Linked DNA regions of Homo sapiens. The protein of the gene in region 4 interacts with the protein of the main gene of each other region in a pairwise test. Each region holds a gene or a part of one and is shown on either strand. Other genes may lie near its edges.

Region 1 (6,221 bases), on a different chromosome or scaffold from region 4:
TCATTGTGCGTGACTTGGCTGGAAAGGGCACTGTGGCCAACCACCACCGAGCAATTATTGCAATATAGATCTCACCTGTCTTTTTGGGTGGAGCCACAGAGCCAAACCATATCATTTCCTAAGCTATTAAAACAAAGTTTTTAAGGCTCTAACAAGAAGACAGTTGATGAATATATATGGAAATAAAGGTTACCACAAAGTATCAACACTACTCAAGCAAATAATTTGTGTCCACATCATTCAGTAGAGTTTCAAATAGCTTCTCAGAAAAAATTAAAAAGTCTACTGGCAAGTAGTTTAAAAGTGGGGAGGGGCTGATTTTATTACTATTTAAATAGGAAGTTTGCTTTAAAAAGAAATCCATGTGAAATTTTAAATTTGTGGATTTTTTGAAGATCATAAATATTCCTGGTTGTGCTCCAATTATAAACCTCAAGTTGTAACTTCTCTATGAGGCACAAGTATCTACAAAGCTTCTATACATGCAAAACAATCACACCGCTTTTCATTTGGATTTTATTCCTCTTCTGTCCATCCCCTGTTCACTATTACTCTTCCTCAGGGGTCCATTCTCTATAGGAATCTTACCTACTGTCATTATGTTAGCCTATATTTTAATGACTCCCAAAACTGTATGTCCAGCTCTGCTGTCTCCTGAGTTCACACTGTCTGCTACACAGATAATATTTCCTGACATACTAGTGAGGTCTCACTATGTGCCTAGTGCTGTGATAAGTGCTTACCATACATTATTTCTTTTAATTTTCACAACTCCTGTGTAGTATGTACTAGTACTGTCCCCACAGAAACTGGGACTTGGTGAGGTTGGTTAGTCATCTCAAAGTCATACAGCTAGAAGCAGCTAGTGGTATAGCTTAGTCATAAACCTATGTGATCTGATTCCCAAGCCAAAACACCTTCCCACTATGCTATACTGCCTCCACTTAGATGTGTTTGAGCCGTGTTATACATACTGAACGCAAAACTGATTTCCCCTCTCACCCCTCACAAATACATTTCTAATTCTGTATTTTGGATGTGAGTTAATGTTACTCCTCCATCCTTATCAAGTCACCCACACTGGAAATCCGTGAATGATCCTATGACTTCTTCTCAACCCCCAACATTCAATCAATCACCAATTCCTACCATTTTTATCACCTAAATATTTTTAAATCTGCCCCTTTCACCACTATTAAAGTAATTCCTAAATTATAATGAAAGCCTCTGTTCATGTATCTGTCTTTTCCACTAAAGACTAACATAGCCCAGGGCAAAGACTGTCTTTCATTTATGCATGAATATCTCCTAACGGTTAGTAGAGTGTCTGACACAATAAATGTTTGTTGAACTAAGATGAACGGCCACAGAAAAATTATTCCCCCAGGTGAAAACCAGAAGGTGTGCCCAATTTACCAGTGATCCCTTTTGTTGAAATCATTTGATTTATTAAATAAGATTCTTCTTTATCCCATTATACTTTTCCTCATCTCTCTGCTATCTTTTCCCTACACAGTGGGTGAACAGTAGGTATTCATTCAGTAATTCTTGAATAAACCAGCAACAAACTAAAAGCAAATAGAAAACTACTAGTAGAACACATAGGTATAGTTCAGTTTTTGGTTTTGGGTTTTTTTTCTGTGTGTAGTACATGTCTGGACTTTCAATCCTCTATCCCCACTCCATCATTCGATTAGAATAAAATCACTCCTCTAGAACTGTATAGTTCTTTCTGGCTGGGTCTCTTATCAAGGTGGGAAATTTGTGGTGAAAATGCTCTTTCCAACACTCTAAGCCTATTTCCTGACTCCCCTTAGTTTTATATGCAAAATAATCTGAAATTCTCTTTGTTAGATCTTTAATTTTGGTCAGCTATACAGGATTCAAATCCTAGCTGTTCATATGAATCACCTCTAAAACTTTGCAAAAGTACAAATCCAAAGCCTCACCCCAACTTCACTCAGTTATCTGAGGAGATGGAGACTAAGAATCCGTATTTTTCATAAGTTCACCTGCTCATCTTATGCAACTGACATTTCTTCTAACTTTAACTCCAAATTAATTCCTCTGACTCTTAACACACATGAGGCTAGCTTCCTTCTCTACCTTTAGGCTCTTTTCCCAAATATTAACAGCCTCAGCTTATCTATTTCTCCCACATTTTAAAGGAGCTTATTACAACTTTGATCCTTTAAAATGCACAACTGCTACCGGGTGTGGTGGCTCACGCCTGTAATCTCAGCACTTTGGGAGGCAGAGGTAAGGCAATCACTTGAGCCCAAGAGTTTGAGACCAGCCTGGCCAACATGGCGAAACCCTGCTTTACTAAACATATAAAAATTAGCAGCCGGGCGCAGCTTGCAATCCCAGCACTTTGGGAGGCCAAGGAGGGTGGATCACCTCAGGTCAGGAGTTCGAAACCAGCCTGGCCAACATGGTGAAACCCTGTCTCTACTAAAAATACAAAAATTAGCTGGGCAGGCACCTGTAATCCCAGCTACTCGGGAGGCTGAGGCAGGAGAATCGCTTGAACCCAGGAGGTGGAGGTTGCAGTGAGCCGAAATTGCATCACTGCACTCCAGCCTGGGCACAAGAGCAAGACTCTGCAAAAAAAAAAAAAAAAAAAAAAAAAATCAGCTGGGCATCGTGGTGCACACCTGTAATCCCAGCTACTTAGGAGGCTGAGGCATGAGAATCACTTGAACCCTGGAGGCAGAGGTTGCACAGAGCAGAGGCTGAGTCATTGCACTCCAGCTTGAGTGACAGAGCGAGACTCTGTCATAAAATAAAATAAAACAGATGCACAACTCCATTACATGCACGCACACACTCAAACACACATACATCTTTGAAGAACATGTAGATAAATATATACTATCAGGAAAGAGTTTACTAATTCACTCAACAAAAATGTACTGGCTATCAACTAAGGGCCAATCTATCTGTATCTCATTTCTTTATCTCTAAAATAAGGACAATAATCTCTTTTCAGAAAGCTACTGAAAGGTTGGATAATAAATGTCAGGTACTGATATGGTTTGGCTCTGTGTCCCCGTCCAAATTTCATCTTGGATTGTAATCCCCATGTGTGCAGGAAGTGACCTGGTGGGAGGTGATTGGATCATGGGGGTGGTTTCCCCCATGCTGTTCTCTCTTCACAGTGAGTCCTCATGAGTTCTAATGGTTTTAAAGTGGGACACTTTCCCCCTTTGCTCTCTCTCTCTCCTGCCACCATGAGAAGACGTGTCTTGCTTCCCTTCACCTTCCACCAAGATTGTAAGTTTCCTGAGGCCTCTCCAGCCATGTGGAACTTGAGTCAATTAAACCTCTTTCCTCTATAAATTACCCAGTCTTGAGTTGTTCTTTATAGCAGTGTGAAAATGGACTAATACAGGTACTTTATTTGCCTAATAAATATAAGCAATAATATTTGTGCTCAAGTAAATATTTGCAAAACTACTGTAGTTAGTAATCTAGTCAAGTAGGTAGAGCCCTGACAGTCCTCTATGTCAAGCTACTATCCAGATAAGTTCAAATGGAGAAAGGAAGAAGGATGCGTATGGAGTTTAAAAGGCAAATTCCATATTTTAAGGTGCTCCATAGTTGGAAGAAACTACTGTAAATGATGAAAGCACAGATCAGCAAAATGTTCTTCACTAATGGGAATAGGGAAAATACAAAATTCTCAACAGAGGAAATATAACATTTATGTCTCAATAGCAGAGGTTTATCTGATGAAAAAAAAACCATATGTTAAGGTACAAAATCTGTGCTGTAGATTAAAAAAGATACAGAGGTTTTTAAGCACAGTAGTCCATTAGGAAATATGGCTTGTAAGATCATTCCAGTGTGAATGTGGAGAAAATGCTGAGTTGATTAAGGGCAACCAGGTAAGAAGCTAATGAAGCCATCTAAGTGACTGGCTGATATAATTAGGGCCTGGAGTAAGCTGTGACAGAGAGGAAGTCCATCTTGAGATAATAACAAAACTGATAACGGAAGGAAGAAAGGAGGAAAAACAGAGATTCCTTAAGGGTTTTAAGCTTGTCACACTGGTTGCCATTCACTAAGATAAAGTAGTACAGAGAAGAAAATGTCTGAAAGGAATGTCTTTAATATAACAAACTGAGGACTATCTTAGCATAAACCAACTTATATTCAAATCTATATAACAGAAAATCATTACATACAACTGCTTCAATGGGTAATCTCCATATGAATGTGACAGATAGTGAAATTAATCTGAAATCATTCCACAACATTTATTTAGTATTTACACTAAAGTTCTCAAGAAAATAAGAGAATTTCTGAGAAAATACACTGATTATTTTGCTCTTTGTGGCAAATCCCACCCCTCACCCCTAAGGAGGGGAAATCAAATGTTTTTCTTTGCTAAAATCATTGGCATACAAATTTCAAACCACAGACTTAGTCAACTTCTAAAAACCAACTGCTTCTTTATATTTCCCCCTTTCAGCAAGGAACTAAAAGTATTTTACAGATGTTGCTACAGATTTTCCCCAGTCTGTTCTTGGAAATGTATTAAGTCAGATGTTTAGGAAGCAACTACAATTCTTTCTGGTCACTAACACTGAAGTACTAAGAAACTATTAGGATCCTTAAATTATAGGTATCATCACAGCCAAAAAGTAAATGAAAAAAAAGAAAAAAAGACTTTGGGAAAAGAAAGAACAAACGAAAAACGAAAATGTGGCAAGGAGAAAGGAATTGGAAGATGTCGCTTTGGTGAGGAATGGTAAATGCCAACACACATTACTTTAAGGACTATTTAGTTGAATTGTTGCCAACTATGGGCCTGCACTAAAAGGTACCCTAATGGTCCAGGCAGAAAGTTCAAATTTCAGCCAATTATAAAATTAGAACTGGAAAACACAGAGAACCCCACACATACAGAATCACACTCAGAAAATGTTGGGGCCACTACAGGTGTAGTAGCTTACGCTTGTAATCCCAACACTTTGGGAGGCCAAGGCAGGAGGATTGCTTGAGACCAGGAGTCTGAGAACCAGTCTGAGCAACATAGTGACACCCTCATCTCTACAGAAAAAGAAAATTATTTTCTAATTAGCCAGGCATGGTGGCATGCTCCTGCAGACCCAGCTACTTGGGAGGTAAAGGCAGGAGGATCGTTTGAGCCCAGGAGGTAGAGGCTGCAATGAGTTATGATCATACCACTGCACTCCAGCCTAGGTGACAGAGCAAGATCTTGTTGGAAAGGAAAGGAGAAAGACAGGAGAAAGGACAAAGAAGAAAGGAGAAAGGAAAGGGGAAAGAGAAAAGAGGAAAGGAAAAGGAAGGAAAGGAAGAGAAAAGAAAAAAAAGAAGAAAAGATTCCAAATGAAAAACACAGGGAGTCACACAAACAGAATCACATTCAGAAAATTCAGACACCTCTTTATCCCTGAGGAAAAAGTGGCCTCTGGGACAGGAAGGGACCAATGGCCTTCTTCAGACTTCTGTGACCAACAGTTGTACTTATTCTACAACTACATAACAATAGACGCTGTGGCTACTGAAGCAGAAAGTGCACCATCACTGTTCCTCTGGCTTGTCGCACTCCTTCCCTATAGCCAGGCACTCATCTAGGACTCTCAGAATCATTTCACACTGACATCCTGCCAAGAATTAGCTTTCAAAAAGAAAGCACATCAAGTTGTGTGCAGGAAGTGGAGGGCAGAGATTATGGTTTCTGTTCATGTATCCCAATTTCTAGAACAGTGTCTGGCTGCATAAATTATCAAATGAAACAGTCATGGACCTCAAGAGGGGAGAGAGTAACCTCAGATCGTAAATCCAGTGGGCACTTTTCAGTTTTTTCTTACTTTGCTTATTCCATCAATGGCTTCCTATCTCACTCAAAAAAAGCAAAGATTTTACAGTGGCCTTCAAGACTACAGTAACTTGCCCCTGTCCCCCAACTTTAATCTTCTACTGTGCTCTTCTTCACTCACCCTGCTCTAGCTGTCTTGCTTGTTCTTAGCAACCAGGCATGCCCTCAAAGGGTTTTTGCCCCTGTTGTTCCCTTTGTTGGGACTCTCCCCGCCATCCCCCATGTGGGGATGGCTTACTCCCTCACCAGTTTCAGGTTTATACTCAAGAGTCACCTTCTCTGTAAGAGCTTCCCTAACCACTCAATTTATAGCAGTCCTCCCTTAAACCCCCTCCTCAACCCTCATACTCTTCAGAGCCCTGGCTTGCTT
Region 2 (5,853 bases), on a different chromosome or scaffold from region 4:
TATGAAGAAATAGTACAGGTGGCAAAGCACTACCATCCATAAGTCTATAAAATATAAAATAGCCATATTAGCTAAATAAAGAACTCTTAAAATTTTCCCAGGAATTTCATTTGAAACAAAACATGTAGTTTTTCTTAAGCTTTTGGACTGGTAAGTGGCATTTATGAAAGAAACATTCCTTCTAGCAAACTAAGATGTGCTTCTCTCTTGCAAAGTTTCCTGCTTTTCGCCATTGAATTTTAAATCATTCTTCAACAAAGCCTGTCAAGAATAAGTAACATGATGTCCTCTTTAGTGCCTTCCACTCCATCCAATTACCATCTCAATACTTAATATTGATGATTGGGTGCATCCATGATTCTGATCATTTCTTACTGTGGTTGATGTGTCCACTTATCTAGATCTGTGTACCCTTTTTGTCTTTATTTGAAAGTATGTGAAATATTATCTGTTTTAAAGTGTTTTAGGCTGGGCATAGTGGCTCACGCCTGTAATCCCAGCACTTTGGGAGGCCAAGGCAGGCGGATCATTTGAGGTCAGGAGTTCAAAACCAGCATGGCCAACATAGTGAAACCCCATCTCTACTAAAAATACAAAAATTAGCCAGGCATGGCCAGGCGCAGTGGCTCACGCGTGTAATCCCAGCACTTTGGGAAGCCGAGGCAGGCAGATTATGAGGTCAGCAGATCGAGACCATCCTGGCTAACACAGTGAAACCCTGTCTCTACTAAAAATACAAAAAATTAGCTGGGCGTGGTGGCGGGCGCATGTAGTCCCGGCTACTCTGGAGGCTGAGGCAGAAAAATGGCATGAACCCAGGAGGCGGAGCTTGCAGTGAGCCGAGAGCGCGCCACTGCACTCCATCCTGGGCAACAGAGCTGCCGTCTCAAAAAAAAGATTAGCCAGGCATGATGGTGGGTGCCTGTAATCCCAACTACTCAGGAGGCTGAGGCAGGAGATTCGCTTGAGCCCAGGAGGTGGAGGTTGCAGTGAGCAGAGAACGCACCACTACACTCCAGTCTGGTGACAGAGCAAGGCTCCATCGCAAAACAACAACAACAACAACAAAAAAAAAACACAAAAGTATTTTAAAGCTGTTTATTCTACTGGAACACATTTGATGTAAGTATTAATTTGGTACAACCTTTTATGGGGGCCAGTTCAACATTATGTATCAAATAGTTTAAAGTTTTTAAACTTTTTAACCCAGTAATTACACTTCCAGGACTTTAATATGATGTTGCAGATGCACATTTAACAAATGAAAGAAATATATGTCAGCTAGAAAAAAGCATATTACTGAATAATTTGTATGACATAATTCCCAATGTTGGGAAAAAAGAAGTTTGTATCTGCACATACACACACACACACACACACACACACACACACACACACACACAAGATTGGAAGGATAGACACTGAAAAGTGACCTCTGGCCTCATCCGTGATTTTATTTATTTCTTTAAAATTTTTACAGTAACATACCTGGTGTTTGAGATACTTTTCTAAAAAATCAATTTTTTAATACCTACCACTCAAAAGGCCATGAATATTGAATGGGCTTTGCACAATGCCCAGGCAAAAGCAACAACAGCAAACGAAGAAACAATGTGCACTCCAACACTTGGTGAAATCTGCTTGATGATTTGAGAAGTGATAAAAATAGATTTTGTGATTACAATAGCTTTTGAAGCTAAAGCTTTGCACATGACAGAGCTTTCATGCTAGTGGCCCACAGCACTGGGTTGAGTCATTTACTAAATGGAAAAAAATGATTGAAAAATTAATGTTGGGCTTTATTTCTGAAGTCTCATTGACAAGAAGAAAATAACAAAGCTGTTTTTCATTTTGTTTATCCTGAAAGTCTTCAACAAGTGATTACTCAAAGTTCTTAGAGCAGTTGTTTCTCTTCTATGCTGTCTAGATCTCCAGATCACACTAAGTTTGTGGGAAGCTTCAAAACCAAACAAGACTTCATAGATTTGATTGAAGTAATCTATCGAGGAGCAATGAGGGGGAAGCTTATTGTCCAAAGTCCTATTGATCCCAAGAATATTCCCAAATATGACCTTCTCTATCAAGACATTTAGTACATTAATTGCTGTCAAAGATGAAGAAGAAGGCACATCTTGACACAGTACCTGAATCCAGCTGTGCTGTGTTTCTGGAGTCCTTTGGAAACATGTGTCCCAGAGGAGAAGAGGTTTGACTTGCGTGTAGAAAACCCGGCCCCTGAGGAAAAGACCCCACTGGTTCTCTGATGACCTGGGATGCCTAACTGTCTACTCCCTGCAAGCCTCAGAGCAGCCAAGTCATTGGTGTTCATTTTCCCCACAGTGATTTTTGTAACTTCTCTTTCTAATGTTTTTCTTTATCCCTTTAATACAGAACCCTCCCAAACATTGGCTAGTACAACTTGATTTCATCATGTTCATTTGATACACAAGTGAACTGGAAAGTCACTTCCCATAGAAGCAAAAGTACTTATTTTCTACCCTAGCTGGGTGCATGTGTGTGCACACACACACACACACACACCCCCACACCCCTTTGCCGGTTCCTCGACTCATACATCCCTCGTGCTTTCCCATCTCCAGTCTGTATTACTGTAGGTTCTCTTCAAATAATTAATTGAGCAGACAAGTTTGTTTTATTTTGGAGCCTTTTTGGCTCTGGCTTTTAAACATTGTCCTGGTTGGCTCATTTAATTTTTTTTTTTTTTTTTGAGACCGAGTCACTCTTGTCACCCAGGCTGGAGTGCAGTGGCGCGATCTCGGCTCACTGCAAGCTCCACCTCCTGGGTTCATGCCATTTTCCTGCTTCAGCCTCCTGAGTAGCTGGGACTACAGGCGCCCGCCACCATGCCCAGCTAATTTTTTGTATTTTTATAGAGGCGCAGTTTCACCGTGTTAGCCAAGATGGTCTCGATCTCCTGACCTCGTGATCTGCCCTCCTCAGCCTCCCAGGTGCTGGGATTATAGGCGTGAGCCACCGCGCGCACCCCATTTAATTATTTTTTATGTTATAAAATTTAATATGGAAAGTGAGAATTTGAACCTTCACCATCCACCACTCTATTCAGGTAAAACAATGAATGAGCCACCTTAGCAGGAGCAGATTTTTCCCAGAAGCTGCTGCCTCTTCCTGAGGCAGAAAATTGGATTACTAAGGCTCAAAACTAAAAGAGATGTCAGCATTGTTGGATAGAAATGTCACCTATATGGGATTTGCCTGTTTTAATAACTTTGTAAGGAATTCTTGCTCTTCTAGGGGTGCCTGGCGCAACCGTGGGCAAGTTACTGCTCCTCTTTAAACCTCGTGGTGGTTATTGAAACAGATTTATTAGAAGGAGAGGGTAGGTGCAGAGCTGGAGAGCCATGGGTGAGGCAGCTTGTGACCTGCCTAGCAGCCGCTGACCACCTCTCCAACAGAAGCCTAGTCCTGTTCAGAGCAGCACTGTCACTGCAAGTCCAGCCCCCTTTGCCAGGGGCTCCATTCCACCCCTTTCCTGCAGGGAGGGGTGCCATGAGTCTTGCTTTTGGCTCATACAGGAGAGAGGGAAGGCTGCCAGGCACTGCTTGTATCCCTGCTGATAAGAGGAGGGAGTCACTCCAGGAATAAGACAAAAGGAGAGGAGGAGGCCATCACCTCTGGCCTCTTCCATCGTACACTTCCTGTCTCTGGTTTAATCATGATGCATGGAGCTACAACAGCCATCTTAGGTCCCCGAGGTGCCCAGCATCACGTAAAACATCGATATGCTAAGAAGAACAAAAAGAGCCCAATCTCTGATGTTATTGAGCTCCTGCATGAACTCTGGACCTGCCTGCCTCAGACTTCTGTGAAAGAATAAAATTTCTTTTTGCCTAAGTCACTGTTAGTTGGGTTTTCTGTTCTTCAGCCCAGATCACACAGTATTTGCGGTATGGTAAGCACTCAGCGCACCAGCCAAAACTCAGAACCTGCGTGTGCAAAATTATCATGTCTTCTTCCTCCTGTTAGAAATAAGTTCTCTTATTTCTGAGTGCCGCAGAGGAAGAGGAGCACTCAGAAGAAAAGTTTCTCAGCAAGGCAAAGTTTACTTCTGCAGAAGGGTGCTGCCCGCGCCTATAGCAGTCGCAAAAGCACACCTAACAAAGGAGAACAGGTTTCTAACCCTAACGCAGTTCCTGCTTCTTTGTCTTTCCCCCATTGGCTGGGGTTGGACCGCACAGTCTAGGCTGACTCCAATTGGCTATGCGCTTGAATCTTTCTCAAATAAGGCAGAGGGTAAAGGTTACAGGTTAAGGTTTGGAGCAAGGCGGTTTACAGCCTATGACAAGAAAGTTGGATCTTTGAAGAGGAACCTTTCTTTTATTCTGACAATTTCCCCCTTTTTGTTGTTATAATTCTTCCTCTTCAAATTATTTTAGTAAGATTTGGCTTTGTTGCTCTTCTTGATTGTCTAGGAGTAAAAGTTGGTCTGAATATGGAGGGGGAGAGACAGAGAAGGTTTTAGTGCAAGCCATTTCTATGAGTCTTTGAACTAACCCACAAACACAAGGTGTGATGCAACAGCCTACAAGGATGAGTGCACTTGTAACAATGGCAAGGGAAGTGAGGATAGAGGCCATAAGTCCTTTCCATTTACCAAACCATCTTTTGGTTAAACCTGTGAAGGGGTCATCTATTCCAGAATTTTCAGCCAGCTCATTTGCTAGGGTGGTGAGGCCTTGTAGAGCCTTGGTAGTGGTTCCATCGGGAGCTGTGTTATTTGGGATCAAAGTACAACATTGGGCTCTGATGATTACACAAACTCTGCCGTTTTCTGCTAATGTCATGTCAAGAGCTATCCTGTTTTCCCAGGCCATTTGGCTGGTGGGACCAAATTGCTCGGCTATCCCCAAATGGTATCTCTGGTATAATTAACAAATCCTTGTTGATTGTAATATATATAGTTTATCCAGTCTACGTTTTTGTTTATAGTAGACCACCAAAATAAGACTGACTCAAACCTGGCAGCTATTTGATTTCGAGCTTTAAATTCATTGGCGGCTACTCGTGGTACTCCAATTGCCTCTATATAGACATGGGGGTCAAAAGACCCTTGAGGAGCTTCTCTTTCTTCCCAAGAGGGTGACTTTTTGTCGGACTGATGAAATGCCAGGGTGAAAGAGATGGCCAGTTGGATTAGAGTGCAAGTGCTGCTCCAATTATTTGGCAGCATACCCAGTAGAGGTCCTCCACAATACCACCAAACATCTGCTTGTGGATAGACAAGGGCAGTCTGATTGGTGAGCTCTCGAAAAGGCTCGGATTCACTGCATCCCGTTAGATTCCTGAAAGATGTAAGTTTTCCCCGTCATGAGAGACAAGAGGTAAAATTGGCATCAGAGGCCAGGAGCCAGATGGCCCTTGGGGGCTGACCCACAGGGAAGTCTTTGACTTTTGGGAAAAGCAGTGAGAGACTGGTGCATGACTTATTACCCCAGGCTGTGGGGTGCTGGAAGAGAGCTACTGTACAGTCCATGCCCGGTTGGTTAGACCATCCAAGCAGGAAGGGAACTATTTGGATTTCTGGCCTGCCCATTGCACAGGCATAACAGTCGCTTTTATTTAAAGTGCAAACTGAATATTTGATCCATTTCAGCCAGGCATTCATTTCTTGGTGTCCGGTCTCGATGGCCAGGGTTTGTTTTAGGTCTTTGACTTCCACTATGTGCACTTTAGTTTTGTCATTAGGTAGTGGCAAGATAGTTGTTTCATTTGGAGGAGATCTTCGGGAAGGAAGGGGTGCTGGAGGGGCGACAAAACGAATCTCAAAGGACCCTATGGGGTCTTTCCCGCTAACATCTGCCCCATACCATAAAA
Region 3 (6,221 bases), on a different chromosome or scaffold from region 4:
AGGCATATCCAGGGACCTGTCCAAAAACTGGGGGTGGATGAACTGGTTCTGCGCGCTCAGGAAGTGGAGCTGCTGATGCTCCTGCCAGTGCTCAAATGACGGAAATGCCAACTTACACTGGTCACACTGGTAGGGGATTAGCTGAGGAGGTAGGTTTGCGAGCTGTTGAGGAGTTGATGTGTGGAGGGGCTTGAGGGGCAGGTGGGAGAGCTGGGAAGGACTGGGGCTCGACTGGGGTAAGGGGCACTGTGGAGGGGGCGCTTGTGGAGGAGGCTGTGGCAACGAAGGCAGGGACACCAGCTGGGGGAGCTTCTGCTGGGGAGTGTTGGTCTTCTGCTCGGGCTGCTCTTGCTGCTGCAGCTCTGGCTTTGGTTGTCCTTGCTTTTCTTGGGTTTGGTTTGGCTGTGCACTGGGAGCTTCCGCCAGCTTTGGTTTCTCATCGCCTGCCTCTGTTTTTGAATTGAAGGTGGCCAGTTCCTCAGCCTCCGCTGTAAGCTGCAAGAAAGCGGAGGAAGCTGTATTATTGGCTGATGGTGCTGGGGCGCTGTAAGCCTGTGAGGGCATCGGGGTACTGCAGGATGAGCTGGTAGGCGTCAGGATTTCCATGGCATCCATGGAATCCTCATTTTGGCTGTCGTCCTGCCCCTCCTCATCCTCATCCTTGTAACACAGCTTCTTCTGGTGCTTGATGAGATCAAAGATGCGCTGAAACACCAGGCTACATTTTTTGCACTGGTAGTTCAAGTTGCTTGTTCGAATGTATCTATCATTTGTAAGCTCACGCCGCTCTCCATCTTTGCCCTCTCCCTGATTCTCATAATTCTTCCTGGCCTTCTGTCGGGCATTCTGAAACCACACCACTATCACTCGGGTTGGAAGGTTCAGTAAATTAGAGAGTTGCTCAAATTCATCATCCTTTGGGTAAGCATTGGCATCGAAGAAGTCCTGTAAGACCCTCAGCTGGTAGTCCGTAAACCTTGTTCTTGAAGACCTCTTGCTTCCCCAGTACTCCTGCTTTGGAGGTTCCGGCGAAGGGGGCCGGGAGTCAATCTTGAGCTCCTCCAGGCTGGTGATAGGAGGATTACTGAAGTTGTAAGGGGAGTCCTTGTTACGCTGCCTCTCTTTGAAGAGAGTGTTCCTGAACCAGTGCTTGATCACTTTCTGGGGCAACCCGGACTTGTCTGCCATCTCTTTTATTTGCTCTTCACTGGGGGAGTTGTTAATGTCAAAATATTGCCGCAAGACTCGGAGCTGATCATCTGTGATCCTGGTGCGAGGCCTCTTGTTCTGCTGCTGGAGCAGGGTTGGATTGAGCTGATGCTGGTAGAGTTGGGCCAGGTCCGCAGGCAGAGGCTCCACAGGTCCCAGCTGCGGGGGTAGCTGAGCCGGCAAGGTCTGCAGCGGCATCGTCTGCATCATCAGCGGCGAGAAGATGGGCAGCTCCATCGGCATGGAGAGCTGGGTGAGCGGCACTGATGGCTGGGCCGGTGCAATTGTAGGTGAGGTGATGGGTGGGGCTGATGCGGGGATGGCTGGTGTGGACGCCGGCTGAGGCGGCGCTGCCGGAAGTGGGGGTGGAGGGGGTGGAGGGGGAGGTGGTGGTGGCTCTGGGGTCTGGGGCCTCAGTGGGTACAGTTTATCGTAGTGGTCTCTGTACTGTTTGGCAAACCTCTCGAGCTGTTTGAAAGGAAAGTAATTCTGATGAACGTGCTCTTGATGACTCTTTAAAATCAAGATGTTGGAAAACAACTTGCCGCAGGAGTCACACTCGAGCTTTTCCAGGTTCTCTCCCTGGTCAGTCTTCCCATTCTTTTTCTGCACCTTCTGCTTGTTCTCATTATACTGGATGACCAACTCAAAGCCAAAGTTCTCCAGCAGGGCCTTGGTGGCGTTCCCTCTGGCATCTGAAGCAATGCGTGGAGGGAGCATGGAAGGCTCAGAACCACCCCCTGGTGCCAACTCTTTCTTCTCTTTGGCCTTCAAGGCATCTGGCAGTGTTTCCTTCGGACCGGTGTTGCCCTCTCCCCCCTCGGCGCTGTCCCTCTCTCTCTGGCTTTCTTTTTCCTTTTCTTTGATGACCAATTTGTTCTTCTTTTCGGGGTGCTGGCTTGGCTGAAGGAGGGCAGAGTGACTCTGGGCTATAGAGAGTTGGTTCTGCTGCTGCTGCGGCAAGATCTGCTGATGGCTCTGCTGTGGGACCTGAACCTGAGCCTTCAGATCTTCCAGCAGGCCTGGGCCTGTCCCAGTCAGTGTCAGTGCCCCACTGGTCACTGGCAAGCTCACCTCGGGGTTAAGCTGGAACTCAGCACTGGGGATGTAGAAAGGGAAGAGGAGGTGCTGCTGCTGCTGTAGTTGCAGCAGGGTCTCAGTTGTCATGGGGAAGTGAGGAAGGAGGGTGGGGTTAAACAGCTGAGACTGGATCAGGGCAGCCTGTTGCTGCAGCTCCTGCTGCAGGTGAGCTTGAACTTGAGCCTGGGCCTGGGCCAGCGTTTGTGCTTGTTGTTGTTGTTGTTGTTGTTGTTGTTGCTGTTGCTGCTGCTGTTGTTGCTGCTGCCTGGATGCAATCATATCTGCCAGTTTCTTCCGATTGGCCTCTTTGGGCTCTGAAGGGGAAGCAATGTTGGCACCAATAGGATTCCCCAGGGGTGGCATCCCTACACTCTCAGTGGGCACTTGGCTTAGTAAGTTAGAGCTTGGAGCAATGCCAGCACTGCTTGGATTGGAGGTGGTAAAGGTGTTACTGCCACTGGTGCTCACAGGACTTGGCGTGGAGGAGCTCAAGGAAATACTGCTGCTGTTCCCAGTCCCATTGCTGCTGCCACTTGCAGCCTCCAGCTTGGCTGCCCGGGCCTTGGTTTGATGTAACACAGACCTCATATGGATCTCCAGAGTGGAACTCTGGCTGTAGGCCACATTACAAGTGTTACACTTAAAAGGTTTGTTGTCTGGGCTGCTGGTGGGTTCTGGCTGACCGGTTGCTGATTCTTGAAGGGCTCTCTTTAACTTATGCAGGTGGGAGACAGAATTGTAGTGTACTAGCAGGATATTCTTTTGAGTGAAAGATTCCTTGCAGACGGTACACTTGTAAGGGCGAGAAGGGTCTAGGAACTTTTCCATAGTAAAATTGGGACCTTTTCTGAAAGGCAGAGCTCTCTTTGGCTCTGAGCCCGAGTCTTCTTGTACTGACCCAGAGTCACTGCCCGTTGGGCTCTGTTTATCTTCCAAGTCACTCTCTTCCTCCTTGTCTTCCTCAACAATTATGGTATGGTCCTCTGCCAGAGTGGGGTCTCCCATTGCCAGGAGGTCCCCATTGGCCAGCAGGCCACCATAAAGCTGTTGGATGTCAGCCTCACTCAGCTCCAGGTGGCTTGTCTCAAGGTGCTTCTTCAGAGCCTGGAAAGTTCGGAAACTGCGCTGACAAAGACAGCACATGGTGGCAGCTCTGATCACATGGTACTGAGAATGGAGCTGCAACTTTTCAATGGTCTTGAAGGCCAGGCTACACTGATTACAGCGGTACTTGTACACATGGCGATCTGACACCGGCAGCTGAGGCCTCTTGGCATGCACTTCATTAAAATGCGTCTGAAGGGCAGCAGAAGTTTTGAAAACCTGGTTGCACCCCTTCTTCCAGCAGATGAAGCCTGAGTCTTCTCTCACAGAGCCTGGGTCAGCAGGGGATGGTTTCAAATCTCCGCTTTGCTCTGTGCTTGCGGATGGCAAGATGTTCTTTCCCAGATCCTCTGAGGTTTCTGTTAAAAAAAAAAAAAAAATCAAACCCAAAGATAAAGAAGGCTTTGTTTCAAGGATGGCACCCAGAGCGGTCTACCTAGTCAGGCCTCATGAACACAGAATCTGATGATGAGGGAAGTGCCCAACCTGAATGACAGAATCTCTGCGGAGCGCCTCCTGCTTTCTTTTGTTCCTCCAATAGAGCACATATTATAAACAGGGTGCACATGAACAGAGATGGATAAAAGGAAATACAAAAAGTTTCAATGCATAATAGACCCATGTCATATCACAGATCTAACAGTCTTTTAAATAGCATTTAATTGCTTGACTCAGAATCCTCAATTTCTCAAGAGCTGGTTTGAAGGTTACTGATCTTAGACTGGATTTCCCTTTTATGTTCATCTTTTATGTAATAAGCATTTAGCACAGTAGATCTGAAGTGTAGAATATGTGAATTAATGCTGTCCTAAGTTGTGAGGAATTTACAAGAACTGCTGAACATCGTAATATAAGAAATTTGGGGATACATATTTTTAGGCATTTAATTTCTTGTTATAATGTGACTTCTGATTGCCATCTCTATTCAATAAGCAATTAACATTCAAGTGTTCAATTATTTAAAATACATTTTTTTCCCTACAATGAGATCATCACACTCATAAATACCGAGACCCTTTAACAGGTCATTTGTCCATTGTCTAATATGGAAAACTCACAAGAAAGAGAGAAGGCAGGACAGTAGTGTGGCCAAACTCTTCCCAACTTAGAACTCTTCCCACCTTAGAGGTGAACGATGTAGGACAGCCTCACAGAGGTCTAACCATTCATCTAGCCAGGAAACACTATGTGGCACCAACTACTGTCTACAACAATGTTCTTTCCATCAGCATCTCTGTGCTTCATCCTAAGCCAATCCCAAAAAACTCAGAACGAAAGACAACTAATCCAGTGTACCTAAAAATCAACCCACAAGTCCCTACTAATTAAGTCCTCAGAAATACAGTGTTTAATGGCTTAGAATGGTAGGGCCTACTGACTGAGTCTCTGGTTATTCACTCCCTAATTGTATAGTTTAAGAAGATGTGTGTGTCTGTGCCAGAATTCCACTGGTTCTCATACTAATTTTCTCTCACTTTAAACCATGTGAGTAATATACAAATACATGCCAAGAAGCAGAGTATAAAGTAGCTGATGACAGTGCCCCTCATCTCCTGATCAGTTACATTCACCTTAAGAGTATTGTAAAGAATTCCTGAAAACCTTTCTCCATGAACATTTTGGCATTCCATCTTGTTTCAATTTCTTGGGGTCAAGAATAATGATACTGACCAGGCTGCTTTCCTGCCTCTTCCAAATTGGAATTCCCATCTCGATCTGGAACAGCTGCTGGGAGGAACATGCTGCTTGGCATCACCATCTCAGGGGTGGTCACCTGAGGAGCAAGAGCAAGGAGAGTCAAATGGAGAGGAAAGCGACACAAAATAGGAAATGTTTAAAAATTATTTAATAAGCAAAATTAGCCTTCACCAGTGTAAAGCTAGAGGTGTCTCACTTTTCATAGCTCACTGAAGATTCATGTTTATTAGACAAAGCTCACATCAGTCAAAAGTGTTTCTACGGTTACATTCTGGACATAATTAGCAGTGCACACTTGAAGAATAATCTTCTTATTAATATTTTTCCTTTATGCAGAATTTTGACTTTGATCACTGACAATGTTTTGTCATGGGCTGTGAAACTTCTTGTGCAACCAATTAGGTAGATAAGTTGAAAGGCCCACCTTAAGCTGCTGAAAACATAATAAGGGCCCTAATTAAATCATACCTAGTAAAGTACACTGTAATCTTGAAGCAGGGAGCATTGTAGTACTGTTTTCAGAACGTATTCAGGCAAGAGGAGGAGGGGAGTAAGAGTGAAGGAAAGGGTAAGAAGAAAAGAAGAGAACAAAGGGAAGGCTAGGGACACGCAGACATGCTGGCAGATTTTCCAGGAAAACAACATTTGTAACCCTTTACAAGCTGACATCAAGCACAAACAAGCCTTTTTTTGTGACTCACTTAAGCCACGATTTCTTCTGGAGTCTCTGCCCAAGGTATACAACATCAGAGGGAACTTCTGACCAACGTCCCAGCGATAGAGGGTGGCCTGCACAGCATTCTACAACAGGGCAGCCCCACCTTGACCATGGCCATTTTTTCTCAATACAGCAGTTCTGGAAATCGCCTGGATCCAAACAGCTGCAACTTTTGGGCAGAGCCTCAGATATTTCTCTAGGCCTCCCTGCCGTACGGCCAGAAGCCTGTCCAAACAAGTTATCATTTGCCTTATGTTAATGTGATAAGCAGCCCTCGATATCCAATGGAAAGATCAAAGGTTCTTCATTCAAAAAGAAGCAATATCCTTTTGCCTGATATGGGGTGGGAAGGGTAGGTGGCGATGATATTTCAAATGAATTAGAAACCACCTCCCATTTGATGATAGCTGGA
Region 4 (5,784 bases):
TCCTTTTTTTTTTTTCTTTTTTTTTTTTTGAGACAGGGTCTTGCTTTGTTGTCCAGGCTGGAGTGCAGTAGCGCGACCATGGCTCACTGTAGCCTCAACCTCCTGGGCTCAAATGATCCTCCCGCCTCAGCCTCCTGAGTAGCTGAAATGACAAGTGCGCTCTGCCACACCCGGCTAATTTTTATTTAAACTTTTTTTTTTTTTTTGAGTCTCACTCTGTCGCCCAGGCTGGAGTGCAGTGGTGCCATCTTGGCTCACTGCAACCTCTGCCTTCTGGGTTTAAGCAATTCTCCAGCTTCAGCCTCCTGAGTAGCTGGGATTACAGGCACCTGCCACCATGCCTGGCTAATTTTTGTATTTTTAGTAGAGATGGGGTTTCACCATGTTGGCCAGGCTGGTCTTGAACTCCTGACCTCAGGTGATCCACCCACCTCGGCCTCCCAAAGTGCTGGAATTACAGGCGTGAGCCACCGCACCTGGCCTGTTTTAACTTTTCGTAGGGACCGGGTCTCGCTGTGTTGCCCAGCCTGTGGACTTGTGTTTCTTTTGCAGAAAACATACCGTTTCATTTACTGCTCCGACACCGGCTGGGCCGTGGGCACAGAGGAGTCTGACTTTGAGGGCTGGGCCTTCCCCTTCCCAGGAGTGATGCTGATCGAGGACTTTGTGACCCGGGAGGAAGAAGCCGAGTTGGTGCGGCTCATGGACCGTGACCCCTGGAAGCTCTCCCAGTCTGGACGGAGGAAGCAGGTAGACCGGCCCTGAGCTCATGGGGGTTGCTGGGCTGCGCTGAGGAGACAGCCCTACTGCTGGGGGCCATCCCCCTCCTTGCAGCCACACCCCTCAAACCTCCAGGGTTGGTAGTGGGCGAGTTCCCCAGACCTTGGGGCTGTGGGCAGCCAGACTCGCTGCAGGACGTGTGTCCGATGGGCAGAGGTGCACCTGGGCACCCCATCTCCCTGTGATATGCGCTCCTGGGCTCTCTGCCCCTCTGTAGCTGGCTTGGTGGTGGTGAAGGCACCCCATTCTCCCAAGCTGCAGGCGCCCCCACCTCCCATTGTCACCATCCGTGTCCTGTCTCCTCACACGCATTCCCACCTTCCCCCTCCCCGGGCCCGCCGCTCCCTCCAACTCCTTCCCCACCTGTGTCCAAACATCCCCGGGTGCCCCCTCTCCCTTCATTGTAGGTTTTTTTTTTTTTTTTTTTTGAGACAGAGTCTCGCTCTGCCACCCAGGCTGGAGTACAGTGGCATGACCTGAACTCACTGCAACCTCTGCTTCCCGGGTTCAAGCCATTCTTCTGGCTCAGCCTCCCAAGTAGCTGGGACTACAGGTGCCCACCACCATGCCCAGCTAATTCTTGTACTGTTAGTGGAGACGGGGTTTCACCATGTTGACCAGGCTGGTCTCGAACTCCTGACAAGTGATCCGCCCGCCTCAGCCTCCCAAAGTGCTGGGATTACAGGCGTGAGCCACCGCGCCCAGCCCCATTCTTTTGTGACATCCTGTTGGATGTTGGTACATTTCATTTCCTCATTCATCTGTCGATGGACATTGGCGTTGTTGTCACTTTTTGGCTGTTGTGAACATTTGTGTACAGGTTTTTTTTTTTTTTTTGAGACAGGGTCTCGCTCTGTCGCCCAGACTGGAGTGCAATATGTGATATTGGCTCACCGCAGCCTTGACCCCCCAGGCTCTAGCGATCCTCCTACCTCAGCCTCCTGAGTAGCTGAAACTAAGGCATGTGCCACCAAGCCCAGATAATTATTATTATTATTATTTTGAGACAGGGTGTCTCATTCTGTCTCCCAAGCTGGAGTACGGTGGCTCAGTCTCCACTCACCGCAGCCTCAACCTCCTGAGCTCCAACAGTCCTCTCACCTCAGCCTCCTAAGTAGCTGGAACTAAGGCCTGTGCCACCACATCTGTCTAATTTTTGTTTTGTTACTAGAGACAGAGTTTTGCTGTGTTGCCCAGGCTGGTCTGGAACTCCTGGGCTCAAACGATCCACCTGCCTGGGCCTCCCAAAGTGTTAGGATGATAGGCGTGAGCCACCATGCCCAGCCTAATTTTTAAATTTCTTGTAGAGAGGAGGTCTCACTTTGTTGCCCAGACTGGTCTCAAACTCCTGGCCTCAAGAGCTCCCTCCGCCTCAGCCTTCCAAAGCGCTGGGATTACAGGCATGCACCACCATGCCCGGCCATTTGCTGTCACTTCTGTCTCCTTGAGTCTGCCTCCTCCTGCTTCACCTCCATGAAGCCAGGGGGCTTTTGCTTGCCTGGGTCACTATGACTGAATTCTTCCCACCTAGTCTGTGGTAGACATCTTCGTAAACTCAGACACCTCATGTCCTCTTTGTCTTCATCCTTCAGGACTATGGCCCCAAAGTCAACTTTCGGAAACAGAAGCTAAAGACCGAGGGCTTCTGCGGCCTCCCCAGCTTCAGCCGGGAGGTGGTGCGGAGGATGGGCCTCTACCCGGGGCTGGAGGGCTTCCGGCCCGTCGAGCAGTGCAACCTGGACTACTGCCCCGAGCGGGGCTCTGCCATTGACCCCCACCTGGACGACGCCTGGCTGTGGGGGGAGCGGCTGGTCAGCCTCAACCTCCTGTCCCCCACCGTGCTGTCCATGTGTCGGGAGGCGCCCGGGAGCCTGCTCCTCTGCTCGGCCCCGTCGGCTGCCCCGGAGGCCTTGGTGGACAGCGTGATAGCACCCAGCCGGTCGGTGCTATGCCAGGAGGTGGAGGTGGCCATCCCCTTACCCGCCCGCTCCCTGCTGGTCCTCACCGGGGCGGCACGGCACCAGTGGAAGCATGCCATCCACCGCAGACACATCGAGGCCCGCCGCGTCTGCGTCACTTTCCGGGAGCTGTCGGCTGAGTTTGGCCCTGGAGGGAGGCAGCAAGAGCTGGGCCAGGAACTGCTGCGGATCGCCCTCTCCTTCCAGGGAAGACCCGTGTGAACCGCCTCCTTGGCTCCAGACTTGACTGATCCCGGGATTGAAATGAGGAGCACAGAACAGGGCCTCCTGCAACTCACGGGGTTTCAAGAGAAGATGGCTGACCCCTGATGCTGTGAGCAGTGTGAGCCCTGCCCAGGAGCAGGTTTTGATGGGAACGTACCTCCAGGCAGCCCCCTTCCACCTGGACCGTGGCCACACTTTTTTGGTTATTTAGTTTGTCACAGTCTTGGGGACATGGGATCATTTGAGCTTAAAAAATACTGGGGGCCGGGCACAGTGGCTCACACCTGTAATCCTAACACTTTGGGAGGCTGAGGTGGGCGGATCACTTGATGCCAGGAGTTCGAGACCAGCCTGGCCAACACGGTGAAAACCCGTCTCTACAAAAACTACAAAAATTAGCCGGGTGTGGTGACTCACAGCCGTAATCCCAGCTACTCGGGAGGCTAAGGTGGGAGAATTGCTTGAACCTGGGAGGCGGAGGTTGCAGTGAGCCAAGATCACGCCACTGCACTCCAGCCTCGGTGACAGAGCAAGACTGTTTTGAAAAAAAAAAAAAATGGGAACATTTTAAATGATTTTCACCTTTATTATGCATCTATTTTCATGGGGTTTCCCGATATCTCACTGTCCAGTCCCTTCATTTGGGGAATGTGTTGGATTAGGGAACAGGGTTGAAGATTTGAAGTTTAGACTAAAGAGCTGGGAACAGCTTCAGAGTCAGGCTCAGCCTGACTCATGCTTGACACCCCCACGCCCAGGGAGGGTTGGGGGATGTGAGGAGGGCAGGGAAATCTGAGAGCCTCCTTCCAGCCCCATAACGCTGTTAACAAGTAGGAAAAATTAAAGCTCCCGGCCAGGCGCGGTGACTCACACCTGTAATCCGAGTACTTTGCGGGGCTCAGGTGGGAGGATTGCTTGAGGCCAGCCTGGGCAACATAGTGAGACCCCCATCTCTACAAAAAATACAAACATTAGCTGGGCGTCTGGGCATGGTGGCACACACCTGTAGTCCCAGCTACTCGAAAGGCTGAGGCGGGAGGATGGCTTTACCACCATGTCAAGGCTGCAGTGAGCTCATGATCATACCACTGCACTTAACTTGGCAACAGAGCAAGACCCTGTCCCTAAAATAAATAAAAGGAAAACAAAAAAAGCTCCTCACCTCCCACTACACCAGGAGGCTATTCCTTTGTGATGGGGCTGTGGTGGGGGCGCTTACCTGGATGGGGGAGCTGCTCTGCTGTTCCTGTGGCTGGGTGCGGGGCAGGCTGTGGAGGCTGAGGGGGTGGCCTGGACCCATGTGGCCAGCCCTCTCTCCCACCACTATGGGACAAAATGTTCAGTTCCTCACCACCTGCTGGGAACTAAATCCAGGGGAACAGGAAAGGTTCGGGGCCAGCACCACTCTTTACAGTCACCCCCAGAACCCTCTGGGAGCTGTCAGATGGCAGAGCCGTGCACTGTCTGTAAAGCAGCATCCCAGCCACTGAGCTCCCAGGAGGGCTGAAGAGCCCCGCATAGACCCAGGGGAAAGGCTGATGGGTTTCTAGTGGCTGTGAGAGCCCAGCCGCTAGGTGGGAGGACGTGGCTCCCAGGCCACCTTAACTTCGGCTCCCTGGTCAACTCACTTGGAGCAAGAGCACAGAGCCCGGCTTCCTCCCAGTATCACGGCCCCAACGGGCCCCTCACTGCGCATCCAGATGTGAGTCAGGTCGGAGCTCCAGCTGATCCTCACTGCACTGGAGCAGATAAGCCAGCCCAGGGGTCCACTCTCGAGGGGGCCAGTGCAGGGTCTCTGCCCCTGACAGGCTGGGCTGGCCCCTGCAGGATGCTCCAACATCTGGAGAACGATGCACATAGAGACTTGGAGGGGAGAGGCCTCGTGAGGCTTGGGGATGCTGTGGAGCAAAGAAATCTCCCTCCCTGGGGTCCTTCCATGCTGGCCCTTCCAGCACTCCTGCAGAGCACACTTTAGGAAACTCCATTACCTGTTAAGTTTGTGATACCAGAGTTGGGTCTGTCCTTGAAGCTGTGACACGAAGACCCACGGCGACACCTTACCCAACCAGGATGGGGCTGGAGAAGGCCACGCCAGGATGCTTCTGCCACAGCCTGGCCCCCGTACACGGCCCCATAGCCTCGTATGTTTCCTTTTTCTTTTCCTTTCTTTCTCTTCCTTTCTCTTTCTTTTTTCTTTCTTTCAGGCGGCGGGGCAGGGTCTTGCTCTGTTGCCCAGGCTGGAGTGCAGTGGCGCAATCATGGCTCACTGCAGCCTTGAACTCCTGGGCTCAAGTGATCCTCCCCCTCAGCCTCCCCAGTAGCTGGAACTACAGGCGTGTGCCACCATACCCAGCTAATTGTTTTGTTTTGATTTTTAGTGGAGATAGAGTCTTGCTATGTTGCCCAGGCTGGTCTCAAACTCCTGGGCTCAAGCGATCCTCCCGCCTCAGCCTCCCAAAGCGCTGGGAATAACGGGTGTGAGCCCCTCTGCCCAGCCTGCCCCATGTGTTTCTGCAGGGCTGGGCCCCAGGAGCCACCGCCTGCAGGGTAACATCTGCTTACCGGTGTTTGGGGTGGCCATTTCCGCATCCATCAGACACTTTCCTCAGCAGACCAGGCTGCCCACTCTCATGCTCTTGGAGCTTCAAGCAAGGGGATGGTGAGGCATGGGACTGGGACACGCCCAAATAGGGAAGTGCCCGCTCCAAGGGCGGCTTCTGGAGACATCCCGCTCCAGAGCAGGCCCAGCGGGGGCTCAGCTGACATCCCTCAGCCGCTTCAGAAAGATGTTCAGGAAACACCGTTGCCTGTTTGCTCAGAG
Region 5 (6,221 bases), about 14 Mb from region 4:
TGGAAGGGCATAATTGTGTTTTGAAATGTGAGGACATGAGATTTGGGAGGGGCTGGGGCAGAATGATATGGTTTGGCTGTGTCCCCACCCAAATCTCATCTTGAATTGTATTTCCCATAATCCCCACGTGTTGTGGGAGGGACATGGTGGGAGGTAACTGAATCATGGGGCCTGTTACCCTCATGCTGTTCTCGTGATGGTGAGTGAGTTCTCATGAGAGCTAATGGTTTTATAAGGGGCTTTTCTCCCTTTTGCTAGGCACTTCTTGCTGCCACCATGTGAAGAAGGATGTGTTTGCTTCCTCTTTTGCCACAATTGTAAGTTTCCTGAGGACTTCCCAGCCATGCTGAACTGTGAGTCAATTAAAGCTCTTTCCTTTATAAATTACCCAGTCTTGGGTATGTCTTGACTAACTGAGAGCAGACTAATACACTCAGTCTCTTGAAAAATAAAACCAAGTTTCTGGGATGAGTAAATTAGTAGAATGAATATAATTTATTAAGATAGTATATTCAAAAGATGAACAGTTTTGCAGTATGGAGTGGGGAAGGTTGATGGAAGTCTCCAAAATGAAACCACTGATAAATTTGATATGCCTGTGAGACAAGGTAAAGATATCACAGAGTGTAGGATCTATAACTCTCATGTTAAAAACTGTAGCCTGGTAGGAAATATAAATTTGGTGGTCAGGGAACAATATATAATGAATATGAGTTAAAGAGATCATCTGTGCCTGTTGGCAAAAATGTAGAGGGAAAAAGTAAGGACTCAAGAAAGAGTCTAGTAGAGGAAAAGAAGCTGGAAAAGGTGACAGAGAAAAACAGAGGAGTAGGGAGTGGTGTTAAAAATTTAAGCTGGAAGCAATATACATGGCAACGACAACATAACAATAAGAGTGGCGATCTGAGTGTTGTAAAACACATTCTAAAGATACTTACATTGTTCAGTCTATATAAACATGGATTAACATTAGATACAATTAGGCTAAGAATGCATGTTGAAGTAACTAGATAACTAAATAATTTATAGTTTAAAACACTCAAATTAGAAAAAAGGAAAAAATAAAGTACTAAGTGTTCAACTCAGGAAGTTAGGAAAAAGGCATAATAAGCCTGAAGTAAAAGGAAGGAAAATAAAGAGAATAGCAGAAACTAGTAAAAGGAAATAGAAACTATTCTAGAAAGAGTTCCTAGAGGATGAGGCATGGGGGGAACAAACCCAGACACTCAGCATAGATCATACTTACTGCATTAGTTTTAAGATGTGAAGCAAGAAAGCAACCTTGCTATCACCAATTCTAATCATATGGTTCTGAAGGTACTAATCAGAGCAGTGTGAAAAGTTACAAGAATTCATCAGAAAGAAAAAAACTAAACTGTTGCTATTCACAGATGCTATGACCACAGAGAAATGCAATGTATTAATTAGCATTAAGAAGAATTTACTAAGTTTTCTAAATTTAAAATTAATATAAATCATGGAATTTATCTACATCAGAAACAGAAAAAACAACTAAAAACCCAAATGTATCTCATTGCCAAATAATACATTATTAATTATAGATTTTAGTTTGTTGTATTCTGAATTTTCTTAAAATACTTTTCAGTATGCAAACTGAAAATATTAGATTTGACTTGTATATTCCGAGACAGAGACAGAGAGAGAGAGAGAGAGAGAGAGAGAGAGATAGGTGGTGAAGAGGCAAATTGCTTTCCTTGTGCACACTAGTCAGAAATCTTTATTTGGTAAGAATTTGTTGAAGAATTTGCATATGCTAGTTCAGCTATAAAATAATCTTTCTAACATCTGGTTATCTCATACTCCCATCTAGTGGAAAGCAGCAAGTTATCCTACTACAGCATGTTCTTTACTTTTACTCTTTGGTTAACAAAAACAATGTAATTATTTATAAAACTATCACACTGCTTTTGGTTCAAGTTTAAAATTATACCTTCCTGAGGGGGGAAGAAGGTGGAGTGGGAATTTAGTTCTTAATATAGCTAAATAGATCCTTATATGGCTGTGAGCTACAGCATGCATCCCAATAATTAGCAAAGTGGTATCTTAAAGGATCGAGGCCGTATAATAAACACTGGACTTTGGAAATTTTTACAATCTATGTTCTACACCAGTACAACATGAATACCACAAAATAAGGGTCAGATTTTAGAATCTGAAAGATAAATAATAAAAGATACAAGTGAAATAAAGCCTGATGATTTCTGAAGCATGAATAAACTATGGTGAGCTGTGGCTTGGTTAAAAAAGTTATATTTACTGTGAAAGTGTTAAATATAAAGAGTTAAATTTACTAATTATAGAAGAACCAGCTCTGTATTTTTTTAAATTATTATTTGTCTTGACAATTAGAAGAATTCACAATCTCAGGAAGCCTCTGCTTTTCTATCAATGCCTTTAACCACCCAACATACCTTTGTTAATAAGTGAGTAAAATCAGGTTAAAACAACATACCAATAACGCTAGTGGTAAGAAAAAAGAAATACCTAAGAAGTCATACTATGCCATATAATTTTCAGTTTCCTAAGTAGAGAAAACCTATGATTGATTTGTTATAATTTTAAAAATCATGACTATATTAAAAGCCTCATCTGCATCCTCCAATGTGGTGAATTGTGGTGACAGAGTCCTTGGTAAGAATGTGACCCAAGAAGGGTGGGATGGCTCTTCAACTAGAGCTGTCATCATTAAAACAGTTGGGATGACCACATCCCTTCCAGAAGCCTTACACTGGAGCTCCATTTCTACAAGGAGAAGAGCCAGCTACAAACTACTCTGCAAGAAAACATACTATAAAATCAGCACCAGGTGCCAGGAGCTATCTATTGTGGAAATCTGTGCTATTACCACTTACCTAGTTTTAGGTTTTAAAAATATTTTTCTTAGAGTTCTAATCTACAGTGTTTTATATTTGAGTCTCCCACATTTAAACTAAAACATTTTACTTTTAGAAATACCTATAAAAACTTTCAAAGTCATTTGGAAGCAATCCAATACATTTATTAAAAGAAAAACCTTGTTGTGGAATTGGAGAAGAAAAGGATGCCACTGTGATCTTGTTATCCAAGAGCGGCCTGAGAATAAGTGGGACGTTTATCACATATTCAATTTCAGCCTAAACTAACCCAGATTCTACCCTTAAGAAAATGAAGAACTTTAAAAACGTGGTTTTATACAAACCTAAAACAAAAACACAAACAGAGTATGGGTGAGCACAATACCCATGTGCAAGGGGCTGTTTGCACGGTGTGTGGATTATCTTTCATCAGATGATCCATAAGTAACTTCTGATGATATATATAGATTTAAACAGCTTGTTTATTTATTTGTGCTATACTGAGTTGATAGTTTTAAGAGAGTATATAAATCAGTTCCCATATTTAACACAGTTTTCAAACCTCTAAATTTTCTAAACTGTCCTATTGAGCAGTTCTCTCTCCAGATTCTCCATAGGATGTTAAGAAAAGTTCTATGGGGAAAAAAAGGGAAGGGGATTCAGAATTAAGTTAGTTTAAAAGTCTTTTTCATGATTCTTTTAAAAAGGTGCAAAGGTGGATTGGCAGATTGGGAAGCTCTAAGGTGTGGGGATGGAGGAGGGTTATTTGTATAAAAAGTTGTTTGTACAAAAAGAATTTAGCACCATTAACACATATATATGCAAACATTAATATGTATGGAGGAAAGGGAGGAGCGAGGGGGAGGGAAGGAGTGAGAGAGAGAGAAAGAGCGAGCCTGGGAGAGCGAATGCAAGAACAAAACTACCAAAAGTATTGCCTCAGACAAATAAACATATTTACATTTTCAAGCTGAAAAAAATCAAGAAACTATCCTTTATTCTCCCAAAAGAAATTTTTTTGTATCACTATTTGTAAAACTTACTATTTTTCCAAGGCAAGCAGTAGAAACTAGAGTGCTTTGACATGCTGCCAGCATTCACAGTGATTTAAAAGCACGGCCATGGCATTGCTACAAACCATAATTTAAAAGGGTTGGAAGCTGCCCTTTTGTAACAGGGATATACATATATGGATTTAAGTGTGGGCCTCTGTGACAGAATTCAACACAAGTATTAATCCATTTATGGTAGGGAATTTTTAGTTTTCACCCAGCTCTAAATCAATCAGAAATTCTGAACAGATGTATGTTATAATCAAGTAACGCATTTTTAATAAAATGCAACTGTTTTATTAGGAGACTTTAACAAAGGTAAAGCAAAACAATAATTCTGTTACTTAATATGATAAATGACATGGTTGCAATTATATTAATTATACCTTCAATGTGAAATAACTGGCTATAAACTCCTGGAAACCTTGGGTCTGTGTCATACATTTCAATAAACACTCTTTATCTCTATATATTACTTGAAAGCATTCCCAGCAGATAGTGTTTCTTATTGGGTCATTATTAGGCTTCCTGAACCTTTTATTTTCCTCTACTGTTGTAATCATGGGCACACTGAAAAAGGAGAGAGCTCACAGTAAAAGTACACCTTTGTCCACAAGGATGTCTGTGTCACAACAATCACACTTCAGAGGCGACAGCCTGGTGCAGTTCAAAGTTCACTGGCCCTGAGAGTGAAAAATGTGCATTCTAATATCTACTCTGCCATGGAGAAAGGTTTTGGAAAACTCTGAGTTCAAATTCAGCTCTGCCATCTATAAGCCATAACTTTAGTAAGTTATTTAACTTTCCTACGTCTTTGATTTCTCATACATAATAAAATAAATATTAGGAGGATTAGGTACAATCAGGTACATACAGTGCTGTGGTAAGCAGAATGTTAACATGGCCCCTATGACTTCTGTCCCCTGGTGTTACTTTCATGATTATGTTACTTTTATATGGCAAATGGGAGATTTTCCAGGCGTGCCTACTCTAATCATGTGAGCCCTTAAAAAGCAATGAATTTTCTCTGGCTCGCAGCAGAAGAGGAAGTTGGAGGCATGTGAGGTGCAGGAAGGATTCTAAGCAGTGGTGCTGGCTTTGAAGATGGAAGGCATTGTACCTCAATGAATGTGACTGGTTTCTAGAAGCTGAGAGTAGCCAGCCCCCAGCTGACAGCCAACAAGGAAACAGGGACCTTGGTTCTCCAACCACAGAAAATAGATTCTACCAACAAGAATGAGCTTGAAAGCAGATTCTTCCCTCGCACTTAAAGGTGAGTACTTTTAGCCTGGCCAACACCTTCATTTCAGCTTTTTGAGGTGCTAAGCATAGACAGCTAAGCCAGCTCCCCTATCCCAGACTTCTAACCTGAAAAATAATGGATGTTGGCTGGGCACAGTGGCTCATGTCTGTAATCCCAGCACTTTGGGAGGCTGAGGCTGGTGGATCTGCTGAGGTCAGGGGTTTGAGACCAGCCTGGCCAACATGGTGAAACCCCGTCTCTACTAAAAATAGAAAAAATTAGCTGGGCGTGGTGGCGGGCGCCTGTAATCCCAGATACTCGGGAGGCAGGCAGGAGAATCACTTGAACCTAGGAGGCAGAGGTTGCAGTGAGCCGAGATCGCACCATTGCACTCCAGCCTGGGCAACAAGGGTGAAACCCCATCTCAAAAATAATAATAATAATAATAATAATAATAATGATGGATGTTGAGTTAACAGTTGTTGCTTTAACTTGCAAAGTTTGTAGTAATTTGTTATGCAGCAGTAGAAAATTATTACAAGTGCTTACTGGTGTGTGACACATAGAAATCATTCACAAATTATATTATTAATAACTCATGGGCTCAAACAAGTCATTTTAACTTCCTTTGGTTTAGGTCTTTGATCTGTAAAATGAGGTTAGACTAGTTAAGTTACAAGTTCACTCTAAATTCCTAATAATTAATTTTTAGTCTCCTGCAACTATGGTGATACACCTTGATCCGGCATCTTCCATTCACCTCTCCAGATTCATTCTCCATGCCTCAGTACTCTGTGCTATTTCCCAGAAGGCTGATCCTTAAGGACTACACCTGTGGGATCCCTTGTCACTGGCAATGGGACAATGGGAGGTGCCAGCAGAAAATCAGAGTGATGAAGAATGAGGTCTGGGTATTTATCTCCTGGCTTTCTGTAAGTATACAAGGTGATAAAAAGGAAAATGATTCCTAACAACTTGGGGGTATGTGGAAGCAGGGGAAGGGGGTGCTGTGGGCTGAACTGTGTTTCCTCAAAGTCATATGCTGAAGCTCAAACTCCTAATGTGACTGTA

What was found.
Region 1: the proteins of ALKBH4 (region 4) and MTMR6 interact in a two-hybrid assay, tested with the Homo sapiens proteins (one study listed by BioGRID and IntAct).
Region 2: the proteins of ALKBH4 (region 4) and TXNL4B interact in binary tests that used the Homo sapiens proteins (3 or more experiments, as listed by UniProt).
Region 3: the proteins of ALKBH4 (region 4) and ZFHX3 interact in a two-hybrid assay, tested with the Homo sapiens proteins (one study listed by BioGRID and IntAct).
Region 5: the proteins of ALKBH4 (region 4) and TES interact in a two-hybrid assay, tested with the Homo sapiens proteins (one study listed by BioGRID and IntAct).

What each region holds. Positions count from the first base shown.
Region 1 is NC_000013.11:25,276,103-25,282,323, forward strand, and holds part of MTMR6 (phosphatidylinositol-3,5-bisphosphate 3-phosphatase MTMR6), read right to left. Parts: intron 1-6,221. UniProt on the Homo sapiens protein: Lipid phosphatase that specifically dephosphorylates the D-3 position of phosphatidylinositol 3-phosphate and phosphatidylinositol 3,5-bisphosphate, generating phosphatidylinositol and phosphatidylinositol 5-phosphate.
Region 2 is NC_000016.10:72,082,877-72,088,729, reverse strand, and holds the end of TXNL4B (thioredoxin-like protein 4B), read left to right. Parts: intron 1-1,927; coding exon 1,928-2,093; 3' UTR 2,094-3,554; coding exon of another isoform or gene 3,555-3,624; 3' UTR 3,625-3,873; downstream 3,874-5,853. UniProt on the Homo sapiens protein: Essential role in pre-mRNA splicing. Required in cell cycle progression for S/G(2) transition.
Region 3 is NC_000016.10:72,794,963-72,801,183, forward strand, and holds part of ZFHX3 (zinc finger homeobox protein 3), read right to left. Parts: intron 5,168-6,221; coding exon 5,065-5,167; intron 3,753-5,064; coding exon 1-3,752.
Region 4 is NC_000007.14:102,454,570-102,460,353, reverse strand, and holds the end of ALKBH4 (alpha-ketoglutarate-dependent dioxygenase alkB homolog 4), read left to right. Parts: intron 1-552; coding exon 553-750; intron 751-2,372; coding exon 2,373-2,960; 3' UTR 2,961-4,116; downstream 4,117-5,784. UniProt on the Homo sapiens protein: Dioxygenase that mediates demethylation of actin monomethylated at 'Lys-84' (K84me1), thereby acting as a regulator of actomyosin-processes.
Region 5 is NC_000007.14:116,237,974-116,244,194, reverse strand, and holds part of TES (testin), read right to left. Parts: exon of another isoform or gene 5,863-6,221; intron 5,181-5,862; exon of another isoform or gene 4,946-5,180; intron 354-4,945; exon of another isoform or gene 259-353; intron 1-258. UniProt on the Homo sapiens protein: Scaffold protein that may play a role in cell adhesion, cell spreading and in the reorganization of the actin cytoskeleton. Plays a role in the regulation of cell proliferation. May act as a tumor suppressor. Inhibits tumor cell growth.